Regions from separate parts of the Homo sapiens genome. Here all the other regions are linked to region 1. The links come from fine-mapping of genetic effects on gene expression. A gene starts in region 1. Each other region holds a variant in brackets. All regions are shown on one strand. Distances are between the middles of the regions. Region 1 holds the start of EBF2 (EBF transcription factor 2). Region 2 overlaps LOC105379336 (a long non-coding RNA gene). Region 3 overlaps LOC107986933 (a long non-coding RNA gene). Region 4 overlaps LOC107986933 (a long non-coding RNA gene).

What was found.
Region 2: its variant is fine-mapped to the expression of EBF2 in nucleus accumbens (GTEx, PIP 0.98).
Region 3: its variant is fine-mapped to the expression of EBF2 in lung (TOPMed, PIP 0.99).
Region 4: its variant is fine-mapped to the expression of EBF2 in lung (TOPMed, PIP above 0.99).

The regions. Positions count from the first base shown.
Region 1 is chr8:26,040,490-26,048,595 of GRCh38, forward strand. It overlaps EBF2 (EBF transcription factor 2), which reads right to left and starts at 4,924. Exons shown (of 16, transcript NM_022659.4): 1 at 4,240-4,924; 2 at 1,606-1,762; 3 at 450-513; 4 at 127-182. The coding sequence starts at 4,370. RefSeq lists a silencer at 2,844-3,138 and an enhancer at 7,440-8,106.
Region 2 is chr8:26,173,571-26,181,676 of GRCh38, forward strand. All of the region lies in intron 2 of LOC105379336 (a long non-coding RNA gene), which reads right to left. Among named protein-coding and RNA genes, the nearest start is that of PPP2R2A, 110 kb to the right of the region's middle. RefSeq lists a silencer at 4,382-4,548. The variant G/T (reference allele first, on the strand shown) is at 4,664.
Region 3 is chr8:25,818,219-25,826,324 of GRCh38, forward strand. The region is part of intron 1 of LOC107986933 (a long non-coding RNA gene); the gene reads left to right. Among named protein-coding and RNA genes, the nearest start is that of EBF2, 220 kb to the right of the region's middle. The variant C/G (reference allele first, on the strand shown) is at 3,466.
Region 4 is chr8:25,776,431-25,784,536 of GRCh38, forward strand. The region is part of intron 1 of LOC107986933 (a long non-coding RNA gene); the gene reads left to right. Among named protein-coding and RNA genes, the nearest start is that of EBF2, 260 kb to the right of the region's middle. The variant G/A (reference allele first, on the strand shown) is at 4,102.

The sequences.
Region 1 (8,106 bases):
ACGTGGAGGGGGCTGTGGAGTCTGACCCAGGAAATCGTGGAGGAGGGGCAGGTCAGAAACAAACTGGGGGGTTTGGGGGTCGGGGTCAGAGACAGGCGAAGAGAAGCCAAGTGGCCTCCGGCTCACCTGCTTGGTGACCGAGTCGATGAGCCTGACATAGAGGTCCTGTTCCGTGCGGACACCTGCGGGGACCGGAGGGGCACGAGTCAAGGGCCGTAGAGCCCCTTCCGGGCACCCCAAACCCTTCTCTGCCATGGGTCTGAGGCCCAAGCAGCCTCTCCATGCTGAGCCGCCCTGGAGACGGTGACCTCCCAATCCCCTGTCCCAGGCAAGCCTCCCGCCGCCCTGGGCTCCATGCGATCCCTGAGAGTGATCATGGCAAGGTCAGCGCGTGCGGCCCGGAAGCCGGCTGCTAGGCGCCGGCTCACCGTTGCTGTAGAAGAGCTCACCGTTGCTGTAGAGGAGCTGTAACTTGTAGTGAGTGCCGTTGTTGGTCTTCTCGTTGCCTTGTTCCTGAAAAGACAGGCAGCGTTCGATTCCCTTGCCTTTCAGCCCCCCAAAATGAGGGAAAGAGGAGACAGTGAATCCCCACCTCACATCCCTTCTCCCCATCAAAAGGCAGCTTTGAGTAACCCCCTGTTCAGCCCTAGGTCAAAGGGCATGAGCATCTGCCTGTCCTTGGCCGCCCCCGGAAACTTGCCAAGACTCGTAGCCACTTGACCCTTTCCAGCCCTCTGTCTCCCTTAAAAATGTCCTCAGAAGTGTGACCCTTGAGCTTCCGACAACAGGACCACTTGCCAAAGCTGCCTTTAAACAGGCACCACCCAACCCATCGGGCTCTGTCTGTCCTTAGGAAGCCCCAAGGCTTCCCTTGGCAGAAAAGTGAAGGGACTTGTCATTTGGAAAGGCAGCATTCGGGCCTATCCCGCGAGGACTGCGCACGCAGGGCCACGAGCTCAGGGACTGAGTTCCAGGTTCAGGAGGGACTTTGGGAAGTGCCTACTCTAAAGCTCACATTGTACAGCTGGGGACACGGAGACCCGGAAAGGGCAAGGGATTTTCCTTTGGTCACACATAGGTTTCGGCGGACTGTCCTTCATTTGAGACCGAACCCAGCCCCCAATTCCAGGCTTGAGTTTGGAGGAGGCGCTGCCTTGGAGAACAGAACAGGAGAGAAGACACGGCCAGAAGGCAGGCCAAGGCTGGGCTGCCGGTTTCCACTTAGTGCCGCAACTCAGGCCACCTGGCTCTCGCAGGTGCAAAATAATTAAAATTAACCCAGAGAAGGGGAGCGGCGGCCTTGGGTGTACTTTTTAACTAGTCCAAGGGGCGTTTGCTCCGCCGTCAGTCCATAACCAGGCGCTACTAAGGCCTCCAGGCTCGGTGCGCAGAGCCGGGAGCGCTCCTCCAGCTCCAGGTTGGGGGAGTCGGGGTGGGAGGAGGTTCGGGAAATCGACTGATTTAGAGGCTGGGGGTGAGTAGCCTCGATTTATCATCCCTGATGGTGAGAGTGGAAAAGTGTCGCGAGAGTGACAGATGGAATCTTTAGTGCTTCGCAAGAGGGAGTTATTAGGCCGCGGGGTTTGGGGGGTACTTTCCGCTTACTTTGTCATTCTCCACAAAGTCCACGAAGGCCGTCCGCTCGATCTCCACCGGCTGGCCCTGCCTGTCATAGAGCGCCAGGACGAAGTGAAAGAAGTTGGATTTCCTCAAGTTGGAAGGAGGCTGTTTCTCAAAGTGGGCCCGGGACAGGGCGACCCCGCTGCACAGGGAGAAAAACGGGGGAACACAAGACACGGGGAAGCACAAAAAGGCGATGTTACTAACCGCCCACAACACTGCAGAGGGGTAAGGGGTCCACTTCCCAGGTCCAGAGTTCTGAACCCTTCGGGCCTTTTTTCCAATTCGGATAAGGAAGAGGAGACTCCTTAAAGGAGTCACCGTGGCCACGGGGGTTGGGTGGCAGGGTTGATACCTGGGGTCTCTGACACCACCAAGTGGTCCGGCATCCCACCGCTGGGCCACTCACCATCCCGTCTTTAGTCGAAACCGAAAGACCCCGGCTGCAGACAGAGGCCCAGAGTGGTCCCCTAAGGAGGTGGCCCGCGTCCTATACCGTGGGGCTGTCTCCATCCACTCCCTCAGGTGGTACTGCTGGGTGTATCAGGATGCAGAGCTGGGGCCCAGGGTTAGGGGAATAAGTGCCTCCTTTGCTTTGGAAGAAGCGACCCTTTTATTTAGTATTAATTCGAGTTATCAGTCCTGGACCCACTGCTCACAACGCCCAAATGCTGACTGGGAAAGGTAGTGGGTAAGAACCCCAAGGGGCAGGCGGGAGAGTAACACAGAGTCCAGGTCTGGGTCCTTGGGCTGCTTGCCTCGCTCTTCCGAAAAGTTGTGCCTGGGACAGAGACAGGGCGGAATCCTCGCGACCAGCCCCGGGGATCGCTGGCCACCACAAATGAGATGACCGACATAGGGGGCCCTCCCTCCCAGAGGTGCTAGGTGGGGAAAAGCCAAACTGTTAAAAGGCGAGAACCTCCTTTCCTGGGGCCAACGCGATCCCCACTCATGCTGCGTTTTCTGGCGGCGCCAGCCGAACCCAGTGACTGTGAAACCCAAGTTGGGGGACCCGGAAGGCGCCCTCGAGCGTGCTGAGTGTGTGCACACGCTTCCCAGCCAACCGGTCGCAGTCACAGCCCACCTGGCCATCAGATCCCATTTCACCGAAGACTTGGGGCTGAGGTGAACGCACAGATTGCGGGAGCTGCCCTGCGGCGCTGGGGTCTCCCAGGTTGAACCCCGGTGCGCAAGCACCTTCATTCACTCTTTTGAAAGGGGTAACATTTTGGCTAAGCTCTCCCCCACTAAGTCTGCTCCTTCCAGCTTCAACAAACTTTTTGATCCCGGGAAGGAAGGAAAGCGAGGGAGGCGTCTTTAAGGAGCCCAGCTAAGGAAATGCGCGGCACAGTTGGCTCTGCGGTGCTGCCTTATTTCCCTTAGCTCGCAGGCGGGCCAGTCCCGAAGCGCTGCGGAAAGCCGCGGCCGCCGCGCTGTGCGGTCTGCCGGAGGGAAATCCGCGCTCCCCGGGCCACAGGAGGGAGGGAACCGCCGCCGGCCCAAGTCCCGGAGCGATAAAACTTCTGCTTTCTCCGCTCCAAGGGTAGAGGCCGGTTCGCTCTACCCGGGACACCTGGCCAGTTTGGGAAAGGGATCATTTCTCCGTGTGATGTTGGCACTTAAATGTGGGTGGCCAGGAGGGCAGCAGGGGAAGCGAGGGTAGTGGAAGAAGTTCATCGGCTCTTTGGGGGTAGAAGGGCTGCCTCTCTCGCAGACAAGGACCTGGAGGCCACAAATCCCAACTCAGTAGTGGTGATGAGAGAGTGGGACCGTAATGTCTTCGTAGGGTGGCACCCCGGACATGGTATTTACTATCCCAGCACGCAGACGCCTAAACACAAAGTCAACTTCAGGGATCCGCAAAACCAGAGGCTGGCGATCCCTGAGCCAGTCTAGCTGCTGGTGGCCTTTTCTCGCCTCTTTCTTCTTCCGCAACTCTTTCTACTGTGACTCAGTATTTTCTCTTCTTTTAAATCTCTTCTTTTCTCCAGTTCCCTAGCTCCGTTCGTCTGGCTCACTGTTTTATCTTTGAGCCGGGACCCTCCAGCCTGTCCCCCCTCCCAGAGCTCCCGGCCGCCTCGTCTTCCCGGGCAGCCGCTCCGGCTTTTCCCGCTCCCCTCGCCGCCGCCACCCTCTGGCCGCCGGCCTCCCAGGCTCCAGGAATCGCCCAGCAAGATGCGGGAGGTAGGCGCTCGCAGGCGGCGTGGCGAAGCCAAGAGTGGCCAGGAAGCCGGCTTTCCTCCCGCGCCGCCACTGCCAGCGCCGGTGTTCACGCTCCGTTCGGGGCCAGGCCGGCTCGGCTTGCAGGACTAGGGGCTGAGCTGGGAGATGTTGGGGGCTACTTTATTTTTCCTTGCAAAGAGTGGACTGTGGTAAAGGAGAGGGAGAGAAACGCCTACGACCCAGGCAGTTCAGGAACTCGAGTGCCGGCTGCCGGGTGAGCGTTCGCCTGACTGCAGCGATCTGCTTGCCCGAGGGCGAGCCCCAGCGCGCAGGGCCTGGGCGACAGATGGGGGGACAGGGAGAGAGAAAGGCACGGGGTGCGCGGGGGGGGTGCACACGGAGAGACAGACCGTAAGAGCGAGAGACAGCATAATAATTGCGCGGCCGTGTCGTTACCTCTGCGCGGCGACATTAGCGTCCACCACTCCGACATTCCGGACCCAGGACCTGACCGAATCCATCTCCGCGCCCAGCGATTTCTCTTTCAGAGTTGGTCCTCTTCCTAAAGTATCTTGAATTCCAAACATTTAAAAAGTCTGATCCTCTACTGTCGCTTTAAAAGTAAGAGTTACAACACAGTCCTGACTGTTCCCAACGTTGCCAGCAAATCGTCTCCTCCAAAGCAATCCAAGAAAAGGGATCAAGTGCCCAAGTTTGAGTCTTAGAAAAAAAAAAAAGATAACCCGTCCTTTGCTTCACTGGCGAGGTGCGGACTGATGTAGTCAAAGTTTGGGTTCTTATCCTCCGCAAGTTCAGATCTGCCGCCTCAGCCACTCCACCCTAGGTCGCTCGCATCCTTCCAGCTGCAGTGCTGCCTCCTGAAAGTGATCACAATTTAGAAGCATCACCTGTTCTGGGAGAAACTGGAGGAAATTGATGGCTGCCTAATCTCTCCCCTTCCTCCAGGTCCCCCCTCCCTGCTCCTCCCCACCGTTCCAATTTAGAAAAAAAAAAAATCCCCAACAGGATCAGTTGTAAAAAGAAGGGGAAGACCTGGAGCCGAGAGGAGGCGGTGGCTGCGAGCGCCACGGAGCCCGGCTGCAGCCGCGCGCGGGCCCCATGAATGGGTTACTACGGCCCTGGCTGCGGGAGGCGGAGCTGCGGCCCGATAAGGAGCCTCATTTGCATGGACGCGCGGGATTGGCCGGCGCCTGGCAAGCCGGGCCGACGTCCTCCGGCGGCGCGCGCCACGCTCTGCGTTGCCGGGACTCCGGGAGGTGAAAGGGGACAGAAAGCTGCGGGCGTCGAGTCCTAGCACGAACCCCGTGTGCTTGCGCAGGATTGGGGGGCCCCCACACCCTGCACTGACTTAGGGTAGCAGGTCTCTGCGGGCTGGGGACGCAGGGGTTCGGCCTGGCTGCGGGAAGCCTCCCTGGATCCTGCCTCTAGATGTAGGCTTTTGTAGCCTGCCGGGAGGCACGTTCGTTCCCGGGGTTCGGATCTGTGTGCATGCTTGTGAGCGTGGCCACATGTGCTTATGTTTTGCGCAAACGTCCCCCAGAGCACCCAGCTCCCTGAATGGCTCCCCAGGTCTCCTGGAGTTCCATGGTGATATCAGATGTTGTGTGCGGCTTGCACGTTGCTGAGAGTGGAGAACATATGAAAGAAGGCGGGGGATGGGGTGGGGCGGACAAGCGAGGGGCAAGTGCTGCTCAAATACAGTGCTGGGGAAAACGGTCCAGGACCTAAGGAAAACACCCGCGGGCGGGCGGGCGCGAGCGGCAGTCGCACCCGTGTGGAGGAGAGGTTGCTGACAGATCGAGGCGGGCTGAGTGCGCGAGCGGCCGGGGAGTATTCCCGCGGGTCCTCCGGTTCCCTCCCCACCTCTCCGTTCCCGAAGCCCCCGGTAGTGGGCGGGGAGGGACGGGGGAGTCGTGGAAACTTCGCCCACCGCGCGCGGTCGCCGCGGTGCTGGCCGCGGGCTGGTGGCCGGCAGGCGGTGGCAGCAGCCTCACCGAACAGCTGAAACCCTAGACGGTTTTTTAACTGCGCGGGGCTGCTCGCGGTGCCTATTAAACATCCTCCTGGCTGGGTGTCATTTTCTTGCTTCTCCTTTTGTATTCTGATCTGCGCATAGATCTGCTGCTGCTGAAATCTAGAACACCAGCGCGAAAACAGATTTGAAGACAATGAATGCAAATCTGTGCTCAAAGACCATCTGCCGTGGAGGAGACAATCAGCTGTTCGTAGTTCGAGCGATTGCGCCCCAGTCTCCCGGTCTCATTACGGGGAGGGCATTTGCGAGCGCCTGGACTGCGTTCAGGGCACTTTCTCCCCTCTTGGGTCTCAGATTTGAGAGACCAGATCCCTTAGGTGTAGGTGAGCGCTCGCAAATGAACTGCTAGAGTTTGCCGCTAGAGGACACAGCGCCTTGCAACTGGTTTGCCTAGGCTGACAGGAAGCTTGCACTTCAAGAAAACTCGGCTCTCTCGAGAAAGGGACCGGTGCGCGCCTCCACCTCCCCAAGGGACAAACCGCGGCACCACGCTGCGTGCGCGGGATTGCGACTAGGAAGTGCTGGTCCGAACTGCGGAGATTCGCTTGAAAACGGATAGGGGGTTAGGGAGTTTGCGGGGCGGGTGCACGGACCGTCTCTGCACAGGCCCCGGGATCCAGGGACTGGGGTCATTGATTTGGGGGAAGGTAGAGAAGGTAAACCCCCCGCCTCTGGGTTGTGTTGACTGTGGTACCCCGACCCCAGAGCTCTGGCTTGGTCCTCCCTGTTGGACTGGAAGGGGCGGGAGAGCCATACAGGGCGATTGGGAAATGGATCGGGTGGCTAGTAAAAGCCAAGTAAGACAGGAGTGTCCAAAGGAAGAAGGGGGTAGGGAGGGAAATTTGTAGGGATGAGATTCACTGCCCTGTTTCAACTCGGCAATTCTCTGTTACATGCAGGTTTTACGGAGAATTTCGGTCCCAGCAAAAACTGATCACCTGGAGTCTTCTACGGTCTCTCTTTATAAATCTCTCCGAACCTCAAGCAACTCCCCCCCACCCCCTTCGTCTGGGGTCTGCGCCCAGCGGGGCCAAAGCCTTGAGTTCCTTGGCAGAGAGTGTGGAACAGCCGTGAGCCCTTCAAGACATGCCTATGAGCCCGGTGATTTTTTTTTCAAGGGGGCTTTGATCAGCTGTACCTCCACGTTGCCCCGGAAAGGTGCGCAGGGCACCCGGAGAGGCCTCTGGTCAGCAGTGGGCCTGGGCCAAGCCCCAACAGTTTACCCCTCAGGCTCAGGTTGGCTGGGGTTAAAGGGCAAAGTCAGGGTCGAGGGCACCAGCTTTTCTCGGCGGTAACAGCTGCCACCCAAATTATGCCCCCTCAGGAAGCGAATGAATTGTTCCTTTCTCCCAGCTCCCTGCTGCCCGCCCCAAAACAGACGGGGCCGCGCTCGGCGGGCGCCCCTCCTCCCAGCCAACCCCCCGAGACGCGCTCAGGGGCCTCGGTGCCCCGCTGGGAGGCAATTTGGGGGAGCCGTGGTCCCGAACTTTGACAGAGTGGGGCTTCCCCACTACTTGCCGGCTGCGCTAAGGGCGCCCCCCGCGGCAGTGCTGCTGGGAGCTCCAGGGATGGCTGTGTGGCTCGCTGCGGGCGTTGAAGTTCCCTGTTGGCCAGGCTGAAGTGCCTGCGCGAGCGTGAGGGGACAAGGACTGCCTTGGGCCCAGCGTGGCGGCGTTTCGGCCAACCCAGTTGGGGTTAATTGCGTCTGTATAGGTTTTGGGTAGGAATGCTCGCGGAGTCCGCCACCCGCGCGAAACATGCGTTGGTTGGGGGAATGAGCAGCGGCGGCTGCGCCTGGAGGGTTGCTCCCACCTCTGTCGCCTCCAGCTACCCCCAAACAAACCTCCTTTTCGATCTCGTGCAACACAAAACCTGCCCCGAGCTGTGCGGGGGCCTGGCAAGCGCAGCTGCGGCCCCGGGAAGCCCAATCCCGCGGGACTGCGGAGCCCACGCGCTCCTCAGGCTCCGGCCAACTAGCTCGGTTCTGCCTCTAGCCCGGGTCAAGAAAAATCCAAAATGAACACTATGATTAAAATTATTCACAATCTATTTATACAAAACTGGGGGTGTCTGTCTTTTACCCTGTCCCCTTCTTCATTTACCCTTCCCAAATGACCCTCACCCCCGTTTTTTTCATGTTTCTGTTTCACGTCTGCAACCCAGTGCGGTATGTTCGATTTCCTTTTAATTGGTTTTAAGCCCCTTTGCTCAATCTCGTCCGGTCCAGTCATCTGGGCGCCAAGTCTCTCCTCCCGATCAGAGGTTCG
Region 2 (8,106 bases), 130 kb after region 1:
CCATCCCAGAAGAGCTTGTAGGCAATCAGGGCAGCAAGACATTTAAATGAATAATTACAGCACAACCACATGAGCTACAGATAGCATGCGGCGGGACCAGAACAGAGTTGTTACTAACTCTTTCTGGGAGGATCTAGGAAAGTCTTACAAAGGCAGTGTCATTTAATCTGTCTGCAGAAAGTTGAATGGGTATAGCCAGAGGAAAAGGACACTCAAGGCAAAGAAGTAGCATAACCAAAGTCATGAGAGAGCCTAGACACAACTTACTTGTTGATGGAGAAGGTGAGTTTGCAGGGTTGGGGGAGCCAGATCTTGAAGAGCCCTGTGCACTGCACAGTGACCTTGAACTTGATCCTGGGAACCCAGGATGTTTTCTAAGGAGAGAAATGCCTCCTTCAGAGCTGTGACACTGCAGTGACCTTGAACTTGATCCTGGGAACCCCAGGATGCTTTCTAAGGAGAGAAATGCCTCCTTCAGAGCTGTGACACTGCAGTGACCTTGAACTTGATCCTGGGAACCCCAGGATGCTTTCCAAGGAGAGAAATGCCTCCTTCAGAGCTGTGCCCATGTACTTGTTTGTGGGTCATGTTAAACTACAAACTCTTTGCATGGACCTGTTCTGTCTTGTAAACCCAGTTCCCATCACAGATTTAGACCTTTTGCAAGGGTCAGACTTAAAGTCTGTAATTTCCTTTTTCTTTTTTTTAAGACACAACTATAAACAATGCTTTGGAAAGAAGCCCAAGGAAGGAAAAAAAAATAAAAGAGGACTCTTTCCTTTAAGATAAGTCTAGTTTGGCAACATGAGTTAGTCTAACCTTTATTCTCACTCAAAATTCTGGGATGTCCCCCTTCATAAGTATCCTTTGAGAAAAACTGAAAAAGGAGTTACAGGTCAGGAGTCACATCCTGGACACAGAAATTAAGATTCTTGTACAAAGGAGAGGAGGAAAATGTAAGCTCCAAGTCCTCCAAAAAGAGGGTAAAGAGAGCTCACCTTAACAGCAGAAGGATCTGCATCCTCCTTATGGGATTTGATCAGGAGAGGAGGGTCACTGGTGCTGAGCAGAGAGTACTTCCCCAAGAAGCCTCCTTCCCAGCTCTTGGGAATTTGTTCTAAGCTGCTAACAAAGGGGGCTGTACATCTGAAAGATCAAGACTACCCCTGGGAGTTTGAAAATAACCATGCACCCTAAGGGAGCTGAGGGGCTAGACTGCCCACAGCTGGCAGGAAGGAAGTCCCAGGTGGAGGGGAGCTTCCGTTGCTTGGGTAGAAAGACTGCTGACCCTCAGGAAGTGGGTTTTCAGGGTCCAAAGAGCAGCCATGACTTGAGGTGTATTGGGCCCCAAGGGAAGGCCAGAGACATCCAGCCTTCTATGCGGGCCTTTGGGGGTCTCCCTTGGAGACGGCTATGGAGCCTCCTGAGGAGAAGAGGCCTTTTCTAGGGTTCAGGAGGTGGATGCAAAACTTGTGAAGTCCCAGCAAAATCAGCTGGAAATTCCACCCCAGGGACTGGATTTCCTGCTCTGAATCACAGCTTCCCAGTAGAAGTTTTCTTAGATGTCTCTAAAGCTAATTCTCGGCTGGAGTTTGGACATATTAATGCCAGCTCAGACCTGTTGGACTACTGATGCTTTTTATCCCTCTGATAATACAATCCTGTCTTGCCCACTCTTCCTCCAACAGAGTGTTCTACCCCTGGATTTATCGCCACTGTCCAGCCTTAGCATTTGAAGCTGCATTAAACAGAGATAACATGATCTTGGGTACAAGCCATACATGTGACAACTTCTGTTTCTCTAAAATTACCCGCTTAGGTCCTTTGGCACAACTTGATTTCTATTTCCTGCCTTTATTATTCTCCTTCCTATTCATAGACATTTTGGAAATATGTGTGACTGTATTACTTTATTAGCAGTTACTGGCCATGGATAATTAATTTTTTTCTATTGTTCCATCATTGATAGCCATCATCTACTACCACTACAGCTTACTTACCAATTGCTGGGGTAGACACTAATGTGTGCATGACCAACTTGAACATTTTTATTGGTTGAATCTACTTCTGGTACAACTACTCTAAATATCAATCAGTGATGTATTGACAACTGGGCATGATAATCACTCACAAGTTAAAGTTGTGATGCACAAAGTTTGCATTTTACATTGCATCTAACAGCGTCTTTAAAATTCTTTTATACTCTCTGATCTTCAACAAAGCTGACAAAAACAAGCAATGGGGAAAGAACTCCCTATTCAATAAATGGTGCTGGGATAACTCTCTAGCCATATGCAGAAGATTGAAGCTGGACCCCTTCTTTATACCGTATACAAAAATTAACTCAAGATGGATTAAAGATTGAAATATAAAACCCAAAACTATAAAAACCCTGGGAGATAAGCGAGGCAATACCATTCTGGACATAGGAACACGCAAAGATTTCATGATGAAAATGCCAAAAGCAAATGCAACAAAAGCAAAAATTGACAAACGGGATCTAATTAAACTAAAGAGCAACACATTGTTGGTGGGAGAGTAATTTAGTTCAACTATTGTGGACAATATAGTGGACAATATATTGTGGACAATATAGTGTGACAATTCCTCAAAGACCTAAAAACAGAAATACCATTTGACCCAGCAATCCCATTACTGGGTGTATACCCAAAGGAATATAAATAGTTCTATCATAAAGACACATACATGCGTACGTTCACTGCAGCACAATAGCAAAGACATGGAATCAATCTAAATGCCCATCAACAGTAGATTGGATAAAGAAAATGTGGTACATATACACCATGGATGTATTTTGGCATGTATACACCATGGATGCACCACTATTCAGCCATAAAAAAGCAAGTTCATGTGTTTTGCAGGAACATGGATGGAGCTGGAGGCCATTATCCTTAGCAAACTAATGCAGGAGCAGAAAACCACGTACCGCATGTTCTCACTTATAAGTGGGAGCTAAATGATGAGAACACATGGACACATAGAGGGGACAAACAGACAGTTGGGCCTATGAGAGGGTGAAGGATTCGAGGAGGGAGAGGATTAAGAAAAATAATGAGTACTAGGCTTAATACCTGATAATCTGTACAATAAACCCCCATGACACAAGTTTACCTATATAACAAACCAGCACATGTACTCTGAACTTAAAATAAAAGTTAAAGAAGAAAATGTACAATAAATTATAGTTAACCATAAAAAAGCTGACTCTTTCTCATTAAAGTTTCCATCAAGAAAAAATTAAAAAATTTCAAAATAATATCTGTTGTAAACATATTGGAATGTCATATTTCTAAGATTTTTAAAATTTGTGATAAAACAAACTCAAAAGTTGCTTTTTAATGGATGGGAATTGAACAAATATCTCATGTTTGCAAGGAAATGTTTTCGTTTTTTCTGTGATTGGTCTACATTAGAAATACATAGGACTCAGGGATCTGGAATTAAGTGTTTAGGTTGCTTCAGTGCACAGCAACCTTTGAAAAGTGTTTTTGAAGGGCCGGGCGCAGTGGCTCACACCTGTAATCCCAGCACTTTGGGAGGCTGAGGTGGGTAGATCACGAAGTAGGGAGTTCGAGACCAACCTGGCCAACATAGTGAAACCCCATCTCTACTAAAAATACAAAAATTAGCTGGGTGTGGTGGCACACGCCTGTAGTCCCAGCTACTCAGGAGGCTGAGGCAGGAGAGTCACTTGAACCAGGAGGCAGAGGTTGTGGTGAGCCGAGATTGTGCCACTGCACTCCAGCCTGGTGAAAGAGTGAGACTCCATCTCAAACAAAAAAAAAAAAGAAAGAAAAGAAAAGTGTTCTTGAAATAGTACTTAGAGGCTCTGGAAGAAAAGGGAACACACTACTCTCTGAGCACAACACACAAAGTGTATGTGGGAGTGGGGGTAGCCCAGAGAGTTGAGATAATTATCCACAAAGAATTTTGACTGAGAGCGTAATATATTATCTGGCTATAGATCAGTAACAGATTACCCCAAAACTTAATGGCTTAGAATACCAATAAACATTGTCACACTGTGTACCATTTCTCATGGTTTCTGTGGGTCAAAGACACAGGAGCACATCAGGTGGGTGTTTCTGGCTCACGGCTCATGAAAATCTGTGTGATGTTGTTACTTGAGATCACAGTCAAGTTGACAACCAGGGATGTAGTCAGTGAAGGTTTGACAGGGGCTAGAGGATATGATTTCAAGTTTCATCATTGGCAAATTGGTGTTTGCACTTGCTATTGGTAGATCTCAGTTCCTTGTCACATGGCCCTCTCCAGAGGACTGCTTGAGTGTCCTCACAACATGGCAGCTGGCTTCCCCAGAAGGAGCCATCCAAGAGGTAGCAAGGTGGAAGTCACAATGTGTTATTATTTCCTAGCCTCAGAAGTCACACACCATTGGCCAGGCATGGTGGCTCATGCCTGTAATCCCAACACTTTGTGGGGGATGGATCGCCTGAGGTCACGAGTTCAAGACCAGCCTGGCAAACCTGGTGAAACCCCGTCTCTACTAAAAATACAAAAATTAGCTGGGAGTGGTGGTGTGTGCCTGTAATCCCAGCTGCTTGGGAGGCTGAGGCAGGAGAATTACTTGAACCCAGGAGGCGGAGGTTGCAGTGAGCCGAGATCACGTCACTGCATTCCA[G/T]CTTCGGTGAAAGAGTGAGACTCTGTTTCAAAAAAAAAGGAAGTCAGACACCATTATTTCTGTAATATCCTATTAATTATACAGGTCAGCTCTATTTGGTGTGGGAGAAGACTGCACAGGTGTTTGAATGCCAAGGGGCAAGCATCATTGAGGGCCTCTTTCGAAGCTGGTTACCACAATAGCCCAGATATATATCAGCCCCTCAATATTTCCAAGTCTTCTACCTTGCTAGAGTTTTCTTGCGCTTCATAATACAATTTTTTAAATCAGCTCAAACACTCATCCTAGATATGGTACTATATATGGCCTGAATGCTTTTGTTCCCCCCAAATTCATATGTTGAAACCTAACTGCTAATGTGATGGTATCAGGAGATGGGGCCTTTGGGAGGTGATTGGATCATGAAGGCAGAGATCTGCCTTGCCGCTTCATCCATGTGAGGACACAGCAAGAAGACATCATCTATGAATTAGAAAGCAGGATTCCACTAGACACTCAAGCTGCCAATTCCTTGATCATGTACTTCCCAGCTTCCAGAACTCTGAGAAACAAATTTCTGTTTTTTATAAGCCACCCAGTCTACAGTATTTTGCGATTGTTGCCTGAATGGACTAAGACAGAAAATTAGCACTGAGAAGTGGGGGTGCTGCTGTAACAAATACCTTAAAATGTGAAAGTGGCTCTGGACCTGGGTAATGAGGAGAGGCTGGGAGAGTTTTGAGTTGCATATTAGAAAAAGCCTACTGTGCAATGAATGGACTTAAAGGGTAATTCTGTTGAGGGCCTAAAAAGAAAAAAGGAGAACTGTAGAGAAAGCCCCAAACTTCTCAGAGAATATTCAAGTGGTTATGATCAGAATGTTGGTAGAAATATGGACAGTAAGGACCATTCTGATGAGGTCTCAAATGGAAATGAACAATATGTTCTTGGACAATGGACAAAAGCCTACCTCTGTTATAAAGTGGCAAAGAACTTGGCTGAATTGTGTTCACATCATAGTGTTTTGTGGAAGGTAGAACTTGCAAGCAATAAAATAGTATATTTAGCTGAAGAAATTTCTAAGCAACATGTTGAAGGTTTGTCTTGGTTTCTTTTGAATGACTATAATAAAATGCAAGAAGAGACAAATGATTTAAAGATGACATTTTTAATCAAAAGGAAAGCAGAACTTTAAAATTTGGAAAATTCTCAGCCTATCCATATTGAAGGAAATGAGAAAGAACAAGAGTGTGGCCAAGCAACCAATAAGGAGACTAATATGGATCTGCCATCTCAACAGAGGCCAAGTGTTATTTAACAAGGCAATGGAATAATTGACCCTGAAGGCATTGGAGTTCATTGGGGTTGACCCTTTTATCAGAAGCCCAGAGTATAAGAGCTTAGGATGGGGCAGAACAATTTCAAGGCTCTGCTCCCTGCATGCAGGCACAGTGCTGCTCAGCCACCCTAGGAATGGCTCCAGTAAGCCCAGTTGCAGTACGGGCTGTGGTGGTTACCTCTCTGGAGGGCACAGAAAAGTCACCCTGGGTGGCACCTGTGTGGTGCCATCTTTGCCAGCAGTTGGCATGCATGAGCCATGGGGGAAGGGCTACCTCCACTTAGATTTTAAAGAATAGAGTCTCTTGGATGTATGACTCAGGTAGAGGGCCACTATGAGGGCAGGGCAATGCCCAGTGGAGCCATGGGAGCAAAGCTGCCCTCATGACTCTAGACTGATAGACTCACGTGCTTGCAATTCCAGTATGGGAGAGCCACAGACAAGCAACTCCAACCCAAGTAAGCTGTGGTATGGGATGCACCTAGCAAAGCCATAAGGGTGGGGCCACCTGGGACCCAACTCCCATGACAGTGTGTTTAGAAAGCAGGACATCAAGTCAAAGAAGAAAATTATTATTATTTCTTTTTGACAGGGTCTGACTTTGTTGTCCAGGCTGGAGTACAGTGGCACAAATACTGCTCACTGCAGCCTCAATCACCAGGGCCCAAGTGATCCTCTCATCTCATCCTTCTGAGTAGCCAGCATTACAGGCATGCACCACCACACCCAGAATTTTTTTTTTAATTTTTTGTAGAAAAGAGGTCTCACTATGTTGCCCAGGCTGGTCTTGAGCTCCTGGCCTCAAGCAATCTTCCCACCTCAGCCTTCAAAAGTGCTGGAATTACAGGTCTGAGCCACCGCACCTGGCCAAGAAGATTATTCTTGAGGCTTAAGATTTAATGTTGTTTGCCCTGTTGGGTTTTGGACTTACTTGGGAACTCTTACCTTTTTCTTCTTTCCTATTTTCCCCTTTTGGAATAGGAATGTCCACCATATGCCAGTCCCACCACTGTATTTTAGAAACACATAACTTGCTTGATTTCACAGGTTCACAACTATAGGGCAATTTACCTCAGACTGAACCATACCTTGAGTCTCACCATATTTGATTCAGATGATATTTAGATGAGTCTTTGGTCTTAGACTTTAAAGTTGAAGCTGGAACAAGTTAAGACTTTGGGAGTAATTGCGGTGGAATGAATGCATTTTGTATGCAAAAAGGACATGAATTTTGGGGAGCCTAGGATAGAATATCATGTTCTGGGTGTTTGTGTCCCCTCCAAATTCGTATATTGAAAACTAGTCATCAATGTGATGGTGTTAGGAGAGGAGGCCTTGGAGCAGTGACTAGGTCATTAGGACAGAGCCTTCATTAATGAGATTAGTGGCCTTATAAAAGAGGCCCCAGAGAGCTGCCTTGGCCCTTCCACCAGGTGAGGACACAGAAGGGGACCCAGGAAGATCAGAAAGGAGGCCCTGCTGGCACCTTGATCTTAGACTTCCAGCCTCCAAAACTGTGAGAAATAAATTTCTGTTGTTTATAAGGTGCCCAGTTTATGGTATTTTGTTATAACAGCCTGACTGACTAAGGCATATATTGTAAAACCAAGTGCCCATCCCAACATCTGCAGGGATTCTTGGAGTGGGAATGGGAGGTGATGAGGCGGCCTGAAGTTTCTCCTAGTCACTTGCGGCTTACAGGGCTTAGAAGCAGGAGCTCTGCTTTGCATGTTGCCTTCTCTGTGCTGTCCTCTTCTGCACCATCTCATCCAACTCATCACTGCCTCCAGGCCATCAGTCCTCAAGGTACCACCAACTCACGGCTGTGTGAAGGACACGCCAGAGGAACATGAAGTGTGGTGGGCTCAGTGTTTTATGGGATGCCACAAATAGTCTAAAATTGAACATTAATCTCTTCAGTTCTTTTCTATTGTTTTGAGGCAGGGTCTCTCTCTGTCACCCAAGCTGGAGTGCAGGAGTCCGATCGTAGCTCACTGCAGCCTCCAACTCTGAGCTCAAGCGATCTTCCCACCTAAACCTCCCAAGTAGCTGGGACTAATCTCTTCAGTTCTTAATGCTGTCTTAGACATTCCTACTACTGAGGAACTGTCCCTTGCAACCCTCT
Region 3 (8,106 bases), 220 kb before region 1:
GCGCATGATCTACAGAGCGTAGAGGTGTCATGCCTGCCTTGGGCTGGCAGGGTGGGCTCAGGTATCCTGGTGCTGTTCCCCTTCCTGTTGCTTTGCATCTTGTCTGGAAGGGTGAAAAATGTGGTTGGATTCACATGGCTTGTTGGCACATTCAAGAATTCATCCCAAATTTGGTTCTCAGTTTGTTAAATATGTCAGCACTGACCGAAATTTTAGATATCAGGACCCAAATTGTGGCTTACCCCATAGATCTTTCTCCTTCCTTCAAATATTGCAGGCCCTCTGACAATACTCATTACTGGATTCTGAAAAAACAGTCTGCTCAAAAACCTGTTCTGATGGCTGGGGATTACTTGTGGTTCTGAATTATGTGGAATATGAGACTGAGGCTATAATAATCTGATGTGTCCTATTAACTCTTTGAACTCTTTAAAAAATGTGGCTCATGAGAGGTCATGAAGGAGCCACACCCATTCCCACAGAAGGCAGCCCAGGCTGGGGCTGCTACAGACATCAGACCCAGGCCCTCTGGTAGAGACTCATCAGAACTGGAAATTGGGCTGGGCATGGTGGCTCACACCTGTAATCCCAGCACTTTTGGAGGCCTAGGTGGATGGATCACTTGGGGTCAGGAGTTTAAGACCTGCCTGGCCAACATGGTGAAACCCTGTCTATTAAAAATACAAAAATTACCCAGGCGTGGTGGCGGGCACCTGTAATCCCAGCTACTCAGGAGGCTGAGGCACAAGAATTGCTTGAACTCGGGAGGCAGAGGTTGTAGTGAGCCAAGATCACGCCATCGCACTTCAGCCAACAGAGTGAGACTGCATCTCAAAAAAAAAAAAAAATTGGAAATGAAATGAAATTTTGAACACTTTTTTGCATATCAAGTCATGGGAAAAAAAATAAAAATTTGTGTTGGACTTGACGTTCTTTGGAATTTTAATTGTACATTAAGGAAATTTAACTTTGGGCTTTAATTCTTTGGAACCTAAACTTTGGACTTTCCTTAGAAGAAGATTTGATTTTTGGACTTCAAGATCTCACTTGGAATTTCCAGATGAAAGGGAGTTTGTATTCAAATTTGGTCTCCTCTGTGTTGCCGGAATTCAATTATTGAGTATTTTATATTGTTATTTAATTACATTGCAGAACCTCCAAAAAACATTATATTAGACAATGTAGCTGAACATTTTGGCGGCAGGGAGTGAGAAAAAGACTAGGAAGTGAATTTGCCCTTACGTTAGTTAAATTAATATGCTCTTTGGATCCATCCAGAGTCTTCTGAGAGTCATTTCTCAACTGTCCACCTTCAATCCCAGAAGGATTCTCCAAAGGAACTGTGGCTAGTGTGAGGGGACTGGCCTCAGAAAGATGGGAGTGGCACTGTTAGGACAGAGAGCTCCCCCAGAGAAAATAGCCACAACCTTGGGTGACCATAAGCTTAATGGTTAAACCCAGTTGGCTAGGAGAACAAAGAACTGGGATGCTTTAAGAGAAATCACTTTTTATCCTTTCCGTATGCCTTCATGAGTAACACTCCTGGCGCCCTGGCCCCTATCCCTCACATCCCCATGAGAAGGAGGGAGTTGTAGCCTTTGGCATATGTGATCTGTTGGGTAGAGTTCATCCATCAAAAGACTGTCAGCATGAGGGATTTGCTCTCATCCCTCCTGTCTTCTAGTTTTAGTTAATGCATCTGCTGTGGTCCCAAACTTTCACTTGGACGGCCACCCCAGGGTCTACACTAGTGTGTGTCGTGTGTGCCTGTGGGGAGTGGGTTGGGTAGGGAATGTTAACAGGCTCATGGCATACCTCAGCCATGCTCCCCAATAACGTGTATTAGTAATAAAGTCAGCATTTTCCTCTTCATTTGCCTGACTCCTGTTCTACCCTGTGGTAGGTTCTGAACTTGGGCAAGAACAAGCATATTAGTTTGTTTACTCTATAGAGCCCCCAGTAACGCTCATCTTTAAAGTCTGAATAATAAGCCCCACCACTACTCCCATCATACGCAGCTGTATTTAAAGGTTAAGCAGATAATGGATGTAAAAATACTTTGTAAATTGCTTATCATTCCTTAGTTTGGTCAATTCTTGTTGTTACTTGTATTAGTTCTAAGATAACCGTCATCTCCTTTGCAAATGAGAATTTAAAATGACACTGCTCACTGCAGTGTAGTCATAGTGTGAATAGCTCCCACTTCTTGACTTCCTGTTCTGCGCTGGGCACTCAAGATAATTCTCACTCTGTGCGTTTCTTGCTTTATTGACAACATCACAACTTTTCTCAAAATGTTGGGAAGAATATGAAGTTCCTGAGAGGACATTGAAATGGAGGCCAACAGGAGGCCCTGGGTGTGTCATTTTTAACCATTTTTCATAAATCCAAAAAAGGGGTCACGTTTATTATGGCTATTGCCTTACGCAAGGAGAGTTGTAGGCAGGGGCTACTCCTACTCTGTGTTCTTCTTCAAGGTTGGATGGGGGCATAGGGTTACCCACTTTGTCTCTTGCAAGTTGATATCTCTGTGTGTCAACTTGCCATTAGCTATTCTGTTGACACCCCCGTACAGCCCCAGCTGCCTGTGAACCCTATCCCACAAGCAGAGATAATGAGACAGTGCTACGTATATAACCTGGTCTGATTAGAGTCTCAGATCTTTGCACCTCAACAGCTGTGTGTTGTCACCAATGAAAATTTTTAACTCGTCTGCCAATTCCCTGGTTGCCCAAATAAGTGGCTGAAAGAGTGGCTGCTGTTCCATCGTTTATTAGAACAGAATTTAGGTTCTGATAAACCCTAATGCTGAAAATTAGCTCCGAGGAAACTGCGACTGTGGTTCTTGGTCTCTGGCTGATAGGAAGAAGTTAGAATGTATTCAGGTGGGGTTTTTTTATCCTGTAGCCAGTTCAGCACTCAAATTACTTCTGAGCTATTTTTAAAAACGTAATAGGACCAATACTTAGGAGAGCCAGATGCAGTGTGAGGAGGATCAGAAAGCATCTATTACGGGCTCGACATTCGCTCTCCCACAAAGCCTCGGATGATATTGGAAAAGCTCTTCGTGGTCTTCCCGGCGGCTTAACCACGTCGCTGGAATCCTCGGGGTGCTCGCAAAACTTGCCATGGATGGAGAAGCCGTTTTAGCTCGTGAAGTCATGTTGGAATTAGCCTTTTGACATCAGCAAAGTCACAGGCGTCACTGGCTTTTCAGTTACATTGAGATGTCGCCCCGGGACTATAGGGGTGCAATCTACCCTTTCAAAATGTTGGAGCCTGAGCCTTCTTTTTGAGGTCTCCAAAGAAAGAGGCTTCGCATTTTTGGTAGCATGTTCAAGTGTCTCACACCTGTTTCAGACAAAGACAGTTATTTTTCAAGTGCATTCTAGAATTTTTCTTCTTGTTCTGATATTGTGGAGCGTGAAACCTCTTTTCATCTCCACTTTCCTCTGATTCCTCATG[C/G]AGGATTCTTGGAGGTTGTCATTGGTTCCACTCCCTTGGCTTTTTCCTTTTCAGACTAAAATGAGCAACAGACTGAGAAGAATACACTGTGTTCCCAGCTGGGGAGCAGAAAGAAAGAGGAGGAGGCCACTGAGGGAGGATGGAAGATGCAGCCCCTGGCCTCGTTGGAACGTGCCATCCAGTGAATAATTTCTTCCATTTTTCCTCCAGCAGGAAAAGGTGTCTTTTTTCTCCCCCAAGCTGTTGCTCATTTTGGCCATGTCCTTCCCAAACCTTTCCAAGTTCTCTCAATTCTTCATTTCCAAAGCTCAGTTTGAATCTAGCACAGAAAAACAATAATCTTATTTTAAAAGATGTTTAAATTCAAAAACTATAACATCTTGCTTATGTTATTTTAAAATTACAGTGGGAAACAAGAGCATTGGTGGCAGGGCTAGATTCTGGCTGTGTCACCACCCGGCTCTGGGACTTCTGCCGACAACCCTAATTTGTCTCAGCCTCAGTTGCTGGTAAAATGTGGATAGCAACAGCCGATTACGGGCTTGGTAGGAGCATTAGAGGCTAAGTGTGGGAGGCTCCTTGCACTTACTGATTTCTTTTTTTAAAATAGAAAATTATAAAATCTGAATCCTATTGTCTTTTTATGAATTAAAATGCACAGGCCCATGGTTTTCATGAACAGCAGTAGTGTACTCAGTGCTGCGACTGTTAATTTCTCAGCCCTTCCTAGGCAGGGCTGAGTCTGTCCTTCCAGCTCCCACAGCCCCTGGCTCATGCCTGTTCCCCAGGAGGGGCCATGTTGTAGCCGAGTGTTGATAAACCTGCCTCTTCCATGCATAGTGAGGCTCTCCAAGCAATGTCGAGCCGTCCACTCATCTGCGCACTTGTGTGCTGGCCTTGCCGCTTATGAAGTGCATTCATATGGCTGTAGAGAGTGGTATGATAAGATAACGGAGACAGAGAAGGGTGAGGGGATGAAGGGGGCAGAATGATGAGAAATTGATTAGTGGGTACAATGTACATTATTCTGGTGATAGATACCCCAAAAGCCCTGTCTTGATCACTACAAAATCTATGCACGCAACAAAATTGCCCTTGTACCCCATACATTTGTACAAATTAAAAAATAAAGCATGTTCACAGGCACTGTGACATTATTATTTCAGTCTTACAGCAATGCCATGAGCTAGTTCCTTAGGCCCATTTTACAGATGATAGAATGAGCTCAGAAAAACCAAGCCATTGTTCCATGGTCAAAAAGCCCATGAACTAAGTCACTTGAATGTGAATCTCAGCTTTTTTTTTTTTTTTTCTTAAGGTGAATTTTGTGTTTCTGTCACCTCTCAGCCCCACAGTCCTAGGGTTCTCTGTTTCCTACATCTGGCACTATCTCTTTTACACACACAAACTCAACACCCTCCTCTGTAGCCAGGAACTTAAATCATCCCCAGGTAGGACTGAGATGGCACGAGGGAAGACCACGTGAGGATAGAGTGAAGCGGCGGCTGTCTGCAAGTCAAGGAGAGAGGCCTCAGAAGAAACTAACTCTACTGACACCTTGATCTTGAACTTCCAGGCACCGGAACTATGAGAAAATAAATTTCTGTAGTTTTAGCCTCAAAAAAACCGTCATCTCCAGGTAACCTGGAAGCTCCAGTAATCCCCAGGTTTGTGAATTCTTGGAGTGCCATTAACATTGCTGCCAGCTCTGATGGAAGGAATCAGGGTACAAGACCATGACCTGCCCACAGAGTGCCAGGTTGGCCCTGGGAACCTGGCCAGCCTCTCTTCTTGGCTAACTCTGGGCACCAGAACCTTGTCTGAAATAATTCTGTGGTAGCTATAGAAACATCTTGAGTGGTCTTATACTCCCAAACATTATATAGATGAGAAAAGTATAGCTAAGAATGGCTGAAGCCACTCAGTGGAGCAGACTCTTGGTCCATGGCCCTGAATAAATCCTTGTGGTGGCTCCTGACATGACATCACACTTCCTCTTCCCCAAGACTCTTAGCAAGTGCACATAACAAGCTGGTCTTCATGCTCACCTGGACCACAGCTTTTTTGTACACTCACCTCTTCTCCGCTGTGCGTCTGTGTTGTCCTCCTTATCTATCCTGGGACATACCTGGGTGCTTTTCCCAAGCCTTTGCTGATGGACAGACTTGCTCAAGGTTCTGTGTGAGCAGAAGCTTCCTGCCTGAGTTCTTAGAGAAGCATGGTTGGCATCCCTGTGCTAAGAAATTCTTTCTGCTTACCGGTCTCTCAGAGGGAAACAGCTCTTTCTGTTGACTCTTGACCCTATAGTTTTACATGTTGGTTGACACTGGAAGCTTGTGTTCTCTGACCAGCTGTGCTTGTGCTATAGGGAGAGGACAGATGCTCTGTGTCCCACTCCTTTAGGACAAAATATTGGTTCCAAGATAAATTGATTCCCGGGTGCTCGCAAGCAAGGACACCACAACACTGTCTCTATCAGTGTTCTTTCTGCTGATAGAAGACTGGACTTTCACTGTTTTCCGACTTTGTCTCCAGTGATGCACGGGCTCACTGTGTGTCCAGGAAACAGTTTCTTGCCGGCATCTTCACCTGAAGTAGAGGAGGAACAGGATGCCCCCAGAGTCCTCGAGGGTGGGCCTGTGTCCACTGGGGGCAGGGTGTTCCTTTCCATCTGCCGATCTTTGGGCAGCCTAAGGACACCAGGGTGGGGGCAGGAGGAAGAGGAACCATGGAGGCAACATAGGCCACATCTGTACTGAGGCTCAGACAGTTTCCCCTTTGGCTTTGTCTTTCTGTGTCTGTTGAAGATAACACTTATTAAGGTAGAATCAACTATAATAATCTGCACCTATGTAAAGTGTACACGTTGGTAAGTTTGGGCTTATGTAAACACCCATGAAACCATCACCATAATCAAGATCGGGAATATATTCTTCACCCTCAAAAGTTTCCCCAAGCCCATTATAGATCAGTTTGCAGTTTCTAGAATTTTATATAAATAGAATCATATAGTATCTAGTGTTTAAAAAATTGATATGTAATTTACATACAATAAAATTCACTTGTTTTAAATATATATATTTGTAAGGACTCTCCAGAGAAACATAATGAATTGTGTGTTTGTGTGTGTGGGGGGAGAGAGAGAGAGAGAGGGAAGAAAATATTCAGTTTTGTAAAGGAATTAGCTCACAAAATTGTGGGGTCTGAAATTTGTAGGGCAGGCCAGCAGGCTGAAAACTCAGGCAGGAGGAGATGTTACAGTCTTGAGATAGAATTTCTTTTCTTGGAGACCTCAGATTTTGCTCCGAAGACCTTTAACTGATTGGGTGAGGCCCACCCAGATTATTAAGGGTAATCTTTTTATTTAAAATTGTGCCACCATCATCGCAATCTAATTTTAGAACAGTCCCATCACCCTGAAGCCTTAAACACTTTTTCCTTTGGATTTATCTTTCTGTGTTTCTTTTTTACCATTAAGGTCATCAGTACAAAAGGAACTAGACACCTCTAGTCTAATTCTTCAGCTCTTCTAATCTCATTTTTTTCCTTTATTTCCTCTAACAAAATGGGATACATGTGCAGAATGTGCAGGTTTGTTATATAGGTATACATGTGCCATGGTGGTTTGCTGTACCTATTGACCCATACTCTAAGTTCCCTCCCCTCGCCCCCATCCCCCAACAGGCCCAGGTGTGTGTTGCTCCCTTCTCTGCGTCCATGTAGTCTCAATGTTCAATTCCCACTTATGAGTGAGAACATGTGGTGTTTCGTTTTCTGTTCTTGTGTTAGTTTACTGAGGATGATGGCTTCCAGCTTCATCCATGTCCCTGCAAAGGACATGATCTCATTTTTAATGGCTGCATAGTATTCCATGGTGTATATGTACCACATTTTCTTTATCCAGTCTATCATTGATGGGCATTTGTGTTGGTTCCATGTCTTTGCTATTGTAAATAATGCCGCAATAAACATACATGTGCATGTGTCTTTATGGTAGAATGATTTATATTCCTTTGGGTATATACCCAGTAATGGGATTGCTGGATCAAATGGTATTTCTGGTTCTAGATCCTTGAGGAATCACCATACTGTCTTCCACAATGGTTGAAATAGTTTACATTCCCACCACCAGTGTAAAGCGTTCCTATTTCTCCACAGCCTCACCAGCATCTATTGATTCATGACTTTTTAATAATCACCATTCTTACTGGCATGAGATGGTATCTCATGGTGGTTTTGATTTGCATTTCTCTGGTCAGTGATGTTGAGCTTTTTTTCATATATTTGTTGGCTGTGTAAATGTCTTCTTTTTAGTAGTATTCCTATCCTTTGACAACTTTTTGATGGAATTGTTTTTTTTCTTGTAAATATGTTTAAGTCCCTTATAAATTCTGGATATTAGACCTTTGTCAGATGGGTAGATTGCAAAAATTTTCTCCCATTCTGTAGGTTGCCTGTTCACTCTGATGATAGTTCCTTTTAAGCAGTGCAGAAGCTCTTTTGTTTAATTAGATCCCATTTGTCAATTTTGGCTTTTGTTGCAGTTGCTTTTGGTGTTTTTGTCATGAAGTTTTTGCCCATGCCTATGTCCTGAATGGTATTGCCTATGTTTTCTTCAAGGGTTTTTATGGCTTTGGATTT
Region 4 (8,106 bases), 260 kb before region 1:
ATGCAATTTATTGGTTGAAATCTCTGAGCTGTCCTCCTTTTTAGAATATTCTCCTCTCCCCAGTTTTGGTTGTTTTGTCAGCTCTCCAATGCCTTGAAACTAATTCTTTTATCTTGCTTTGTTTTATTTAGCTTTTCCAGTTGTTTTGGGCTAGAGAGTGGTCTGCTGCAAACTACTTAAGCATAACCAGAAGCAAAAATCCATATTGTTTTAAAAATGAGTTCTGGGGAGCCCTTGCTAAGGAACAGAAGAGAAGCTGCTGGAAGATTCATCCTCTGGGGTCTCTGGGTTGATGTTTTACCTCAATGCATCTAGGACTCAGAATAGCTGGTTGCAACTATGACTCTTCATTAACCTGCTGAATAACATAGACCAGCCATCCAACTTTCCCCACTTAAGAAATGAGGACATTATCTAGTCTTCTCACTTGACAGAACTGTCGTGAGAAAAGATTATTTATGTAAGTGTTTTGGAAAGGTAAAGATGATATACCTGTTGAATGCAGTCAGGTAGTTCTCTGTGATCAGATAGGTGTTTGTGTCTCTAGCTGTTCATTGGATGAATGTCTTTCTCCCCCAACTAGACTGTAAACACTTTAAGGATGGGGCCTATGTCCTCTACTTCCATTTTATTTCCTACAGTTTCACATTGCATGTCATTCACAAAATAGGCATCATTTAAATACCCTACAGAAAAAAATTGAACCTTTTTCTGTGTCTGTCCATACGTGCAGGCTATCAGATATATGATCTAAGTGTTTGTGTCGCCCCCAGATTAATATGCTGAAAGCCTAACCCACATGGTGATGGTATTAGGAGGTGGGGCCTTTGAAAGGCGATTAATGAGAACAGAGACAGCATGATTCAGATTGGTGCTCTTGTAAAAGAGGCCCCAGAGAGCTAGTGAGCCTTTTCCACCGTGGAGGACCCAGCAAGAGGGCTCCATCTATGAACCAGAAATCAGGATCTCACCAGGTTTCCCAGCCTGAAGAACTGGAAGAAATAAACTTCTGTTGTTTATAAGCTACCCAGTTTATGGTATTTTGTTGTAGCAACCCGAATGGATTAAGACAAGCCTCATTTTTATTTTCAGTCTATGTTGGTAAATCCCAGCTTAGGGATTTGCCGTTTGAGGGACAAGTTTTGATCATCAGCTCTTCCTCTTTTATTTTTAACTTTTTTCTTTTATTATTTTTAATTGACACATAATTGTGCATATTTATGGGGTACATCTTGATACATGTATACAATGTGTAGTGATCAAATCAGAGTAATTAGCATATCCATCATCTCAAACATTTTTCACTTCTTTGGGAATATTCAAAATCATCTAGCTATCTGAAAATATACAATAAGTTGTTGTTTATAGTCACCCTACAGTGCTGCAGAACACTAGAACTTGTACCTCCTATCTAGCTGTAGTTGTGCATCCATTAACCAACTTCTCCCTATTTTCTCCTTCCCTCTAGTAACCATATTTCTACTTTGTGCTTCTATGAGATCAGCTGTTTTAGCTTCCACATAAGGGTAAGAACAAGCAGTATTTATTTTTCTGTCCCTGGCTTATTTCACTGAACATAATGTTCTCCAAGCTCATCCATGTTGCTGTAAATACCAGGATTTCATTCTCTTTATGGCTGAATAGTATTCCATTGTGTATATAGGCCACATTTTCTTTATCCATTTATTTCTTAATGGGCACTTAGTTTGGTTCCATATCTTGGTTATTGCATATAGTGCTGCAATAAACATGGAGGTGTGGATAATCTCTTCAACATACTGATTTCCCTTCCTTGGGTATAGCTAGATCATAAGGTAGTTCTATTTTTAGTTTTTTGAGGGACCACAATACTGCTTTCCACCATGCCTGTACTAATTTGCATCCCTATTAACAGTGTATAAGAATTCCCCTTTCTCCATATCTTTGCTAGCCTTTTTTTGTCTTTTTGATAATAGCCTTTCTAATGGGTGAAATGATATCTTGTGGTTTTGATTTGCATTTCCCTGATGATTAGTGATGTTGAGCATTTTTTCATGTACTGGTTGGCCAGTTGTATATTTTTTTTTTCTGAGAGATGTGTATTTAGTTCATTTGCCCATTTTAAAATCAGATTATTATGATTATTTTTTGCTGTTAAGTTCCCTGTATATTCTGGATACTAATTCCTTGTTGGATGAATGGTTTGCACATATTTTCTCCCATTCTTTAGGTTGTCTCTTCACTCTGTTGATTGCTTCATTTGCCATGGAGGAGCCTTTTAGTTTGATATAATCCCATTTGTCTATTTTTGCTTTTGTTGCAGGTGCTTTTGCAGGCCTATCCATAAAATCTTTGCCTGTTCCAATGTCCTGAAGCATTTCTGCTATGATTTCTTCTAACAGTTTCATAGTTTGGGATCTTATATTTAAGTCTAATTCATTTTACTTTTTTTTATATATAGCGAGAGATAGGGTTTAGTTTCATTCTTCCGTGTATGGATATTGTATTAGTCTGTTCTCATGCTGCTAATAAAGACACATCCAAGACAGGATAATTTATAAATGAAAGAGGTTTAATTGACTCTCAGTTCAGCATGGCTGGTTAGGCGTCAGGAAACTTACAGTCATGGTGGAAGGTAAAGCAAAGACATCCTTCATCACATGGTGACAGCAAGGAGAAGTACAGAGCAAAGGGGCAAAGCCCCTTATAAAGCCATCAGATCTCATGAGAACTCACTCAGTATCATGAGAATGGCATGAAGTAACCGCCCCCATGATTCAGTTACCTCCCATTAGGTCCCTCCCACAACCTTTGGGAATGATGGGAACTACAGTTCAAGATGAGACATAGGTGGGGACACAGCCAAACCATATCAGATAAGCAGTTTCCCCATCACCATTCATTGAATAGACTGTCTTTTCCCCAGTAAATGTTCTTAAGATCTTTGTCAAAAATCAGTAGGCTGTAACTGTGTGGATTTATTTCTGGGTCCTCTATTCTGGTCCATTGGTCTACATGACTGTTTTTATGCCAGTACTATGCTGTTTGGGTTACTATAATTTTGTAGTATATTTTCAGTCAGACAGTGTGATGCCTCCAGTTTTGTTCTCTTTGCTCAGGATTGCTTTAGCTATTTGAGGTCTTTTGTGGTTCCGTATGAATTTTAGGATTGTTTTTCTATTCCTGTGAAGAATGTCGTTGATCTTTTGATAGCGATTGCATTGAATATGCAGATTGCTTTTGGTAGTATGCTCATTTTCACAATATCATTCTACCAGTTCATGAACATGGAAGGTCTTTTCATTTTTTTTGTCCTCTTTATTTCATCAGTGTTTTATAGTTTTCATTGATGAGATCTTTTACCTCCATGATTACATTTATTTTTAGGTATTTTATTTTATTTTATTTTTGTTGCTATTACAACTGTGGTTACTTTCTTGACTTCTTTTTCAGCTAGTTTATTGATAGTCTATAAAAAACGCTATAGATTTTTATGTGTTGATTTTGTATCCTGCAGCTTTACTGATTTTTAAAAATCAGTTCTAAAAGTTTGATGGCACTCTTAGGGTTTTCTATGTGTAAGATCGTGTCATCTGCAAATAGGGACAATTTGACTTCTTCTGTTCCAATTTGGATGCCCTTTAGTTTTTTCTTTTGCCTAATTACTCTGGCTTAAGACTTCCAAAGGTCTACTTTTGACATTTTTATTTTAATTATTTTGTGCTTTCTAGTTTCACTGTTTTTTTTTTTTAATTTCGTTCAATATTGATGCATACTTAAAAGGACTTTCTTCAATACTGGGCAATTCTTAGCTTTTTTTTTTTTTAATATTGCCTTTCCATTTTTACCTTTATTCTCTTTTTCCAGAACTCCTACTTAATGGATATTAGAAATTCTCAATATATTACTCGTCTTTTAACAGCTCTTCTTTAAAAAAAAATCTCTATTTCTCTGTGTACACTATAGAGAAAACATTTTTGTATTTTCTTCAAATTCCCCAATTCTCTCTTTAATTAATCCCAGTCAAGTTATTGTCCTATTATCCTGTTGAGTTTATTAGATCAACTATATTTTTCAACTTAATGGTTGTAATTTTAAAAAATACTCACTTGTTCTTTTTAC[G/A]TTTCTATTTCATAATTTTATTGTTATTTGTAGATATGATTCCTTCATTTATCTCTTTGTAGATCCTAAACATATTTATTTTGAGGCCTATTTCAGATTGTTTTCTTATTTTATTTCTATCTGTAGTGAACTCATATTTTGATCGTTAATTTTGTTGGCTTTTTTCCTATTTCTTGCTTTATTTGGAACTTATATTTTTAGGCTCATTTTAAATGGGTGGATATTTTTCTTTCACTCTTTCCTTATTTTAATTTAATTTACTCTCCAGTTAATGGTTTTGAAATGACTGTCCGTAGGCCCCACAGAACCATGCTTTTTATTGGTGGTCTAGGACTCAGGCTCTGCAGTGAAACTGGGCATGGTATAGCTTTGGCTGGCTGGTGGTTTGATTCCTTTCCGGATCTTAAGGCTCTGTCTGCTTTATTTTGCTGAAGCATTTGGCAATAACTTTTAGGAGGCCCAGAAGTCAACCCAAAAATACATTTTATTCTGTAGTTTCTTAATTGTTAATATCAAGTGTAAAACATTATCCCTTGCCTCCTCCCACTTTAGATGAGTAATTTAACATGTAAATTCCCCCTTCTCTCCTCCTTCTTGGTTTTGCTAATATGATTTGGGATTTTAAATCAGAATTACTGCTCTAAATTTATTGTTTTAAAAGGCCAGCTTCCCTCTTAAACAGGGAATGCTTCAGTGTAATATAATAGGAACACCCATGATTCTCTAAACTTCCATAAATGAAGCACTAGTGATCATAAAGAAGATGAAGAAATTTTGGGGGACTGCCAATTTCCTTTCACCTAGGTGATAATTGTAAAAAGTGAAACATAAAAGTGGCCTGACTAAAACAGGCAATCTTCGTAGGTCTTTCTAATAGTTATCTTTGTTTCAGTGCAGCTTTTAGCTTATGTCCTGGTTATAAATAGGTTACACAATAGGCATTGGAAATATTCATGAGAGTGTGGAGGTATTTAAATGGCAAGTAATTGCTGGAGTTACAGCAAAAACTAAAAGCTAGATGGTCTACACTATCACGGAATTTATCACAGTTAAACAAACTGTGAGCCATTTGTGCTTCCTCTTCAAGTTCACCTTCAACACGTTTCATCTGTCTTCCATCTCCATGGCTGCACTAAAGCTGCCCTGGTCAAGGATGCTCATGATCTCCATGTTGCCAAACCTAATAGACCTCACTGTACTTGACTTTTTGGCAACATTCATGAGAGTTGACTGCCCATCTTTCTTAAGACACTTTTCCCTCTTAGTTTTGATGAAACCAACTCCTATTTTTCCTCCTGTTTTTCTGGCTGCTCCTTGACTTTTTGACCGATAAATATTAGAGTTCCCAGGGCTTATTCCTGAGTCTTATTTTCTATCAATACTCTCTCCTTATGAAACCTTAACCAGTCCCATAGCTTTAAATAATGCATAATGAGGATTCTTAGTTAATTTTCAGCTCTAAACCCTCTTCCAAATTGCAAACTAACTCATAGGACTGATTTCCTGTTTGATATCACCACATGGATGTGTAACAAACGTTTCAAACTTAACATGTCTGAAACAAACCAGGAATTGTCACCCATCCAATGGTTCCTTCCCAATTCCCCCCAGCACTGAACCTCAGTAAATGATCCTACCAGACAGTTGCTAAGCCAAAAATCTAGAAATCTCTTATCACTGTTTCTTTAACCCCAACATCCAATCCATCAGATCACCTACAATATACATGTTGACTCTACCATGTCTCTCCATTCCCATCACCACTATGAAAGTTTAAGCCACCATCACCTCTTGTCTGGACCACAGCAATTGATTCCCATTGGTCTCTCTGCTTTTATGCATGCCTCACTCCAGTGTCTTCTTTGCATGGCCAACTAATCTTTTTAGAATATGAATCGTGTCATGTTATTCCCTAGCTAAAGACCCTCAGTGATTTCCCAGTGAATTTAGAAAAGGTCTAGATTTTCTTAACCTGGCTTGTTGCAGCAAACTCACCTTATTCTATTCTCCCTTTAGTTCTTTCTCTTCGAAAACATGGCAAGTTTCTGTGCCTTAGATATTTGGTATTTTCTTTTCCCTCTGCCTGGGAGATTCCTTGCCTGTCTCTCTGCAAGGTTTTGACATAAACATGACATCCTCAAAGACTTTTCCTCCGACCACACTATCTAAAGTATCTCCTGGATTATTTAGTTCAGTTAATATTTTCTTTTTTCCCTTTATACTAGTACATGGAACTTTCTCGTTTGTTTCTTTACTCTCTATCTCTATCCATTAGAATGTAAGTTCCCTAATGGCTGAGACTTCATCTTGTTCGTGGATATAGTCTCATAACCTAGAACTAGGATGACAATATAATTTATTTTCCAAATTGGGACACTTTTGTTTGTGCTAAAATACCATGATGAGTGAGATGCAAGGATAATAGGTGTAAGCACAGACTACACCAGGAAAATGCGGATTTACAGTCAAGCTGCCTAGAGCATAAGCTGACATCTAGTTAGCCCTCAATAATGAACTGTTAAAAACAGTTACAGAATCACATGCTGCTAAGTGAAGGAAGCCAGTATGAAAAGGATGACTACTGTATGATTCTGTTTATAAGAGATTGTAGTGAAGACAAAACTATAGCAATGGTAAACAGATCAGTGATTGCCAGGGCTTGGGGAAGGGAAAGAGTTGAATAGGTGAAGCATGGGGGATTCTTTAGGACAGTGAAACTCACCTATGTGATGCTGTCATGGTGAATTCATGACATCTTGCATTTGTTAAAATCCATAGAACTTTGCAAACAGTGAACTTCTTATATACAACTTTTAAAAAATCACTTAGGAGGTCAGGGGATCCCAGGATGGAATATAGGCTACAACAAAAGAACTTAATGTGTTATAAATGTATATGATAACCTCACTGAAGGAAGTGATAGGGTTGGGGTTGGGGAGGTACTGACCTAAGTAACTTTGGAAATGAATGGAGACTGGAAGACTAAAGCCATAGTAACTGCACATAAGCACTGTTCTATTTGGTAAAGCTTTCCCTTGCCTGGCTCTCTGTAAGGTTTTGACACAAATATGACATCCTCAAAGATGTTTCCTCCAACCACGCTATCTAAAGTATCACGTATAATAGGAGCAAGCTGAAGAATGCTGTAGGCAATGAGTGGTATGTGGGAGGACCCACAGGCAAAAAACAAAAGATTGCATTGCAAAAACATTAGCAAGTCCAGTATCTTATATCCATCACTCTTTCTTCACATGAAAGCTCTTTCTTTAAGAGCTCCTGAAAGGACTGTTATGATTCCCATTTTACAGATGAGGAAATCAAGACCCTGAGAGGTAGTGCTTTTCCCAACGACATACACCCTATTGGTGGTTAAAACAGAACAGGGAGCCCAGCCTATCAGACTCTAAAACCTATACCATTCCTCTCATGTTACTCTCCATTTGCTTAAGAATCCTATAGAAGTCGGCTGTAGTCAGTTTCTCACTTCTGAAAATGAACAAAACTGAGTGTGTATGGAGCTAACATGCAGATCAGTAGGGGGGCTGGGAAACGTTGACCATGGCAGCCGCTAGTTCTCACTAAGTTGCTCTCACAAGCAGCATTCTCTTACTTGCCAGGAACCAGAGCCCTATGAAACCAGAGGTCAAATTCCAACCTATGAACCCAAGGGAAATTATGTATCATGAAAATATGGCCTGGGAAGTGGAACCAAAAAAAAAAAAGTCCTGTTATGGAAAGGAGAATGAGAATAGTAGAAGGAAAGGCAGGGTTGGAGACAGACTGTACTGGGACTGGGGTGGTGGAGAGATGAGCAAGGTGAGCAGCTCAGTCTCCACGTGGCAGGTGCCCCCAGGAAGAATCAAGAGTTGGCCCAACGCTGCTCATTTAAATGGCTCTGCTGCCACCTCTACCTCCCACCTCCTTCCTCCTCCTCCATCACCACTATGTAGCAAGCTGCTAAAAAACCAGGAGGAACTGTCCAAACCTAGCACCTGCCTAAAGAGG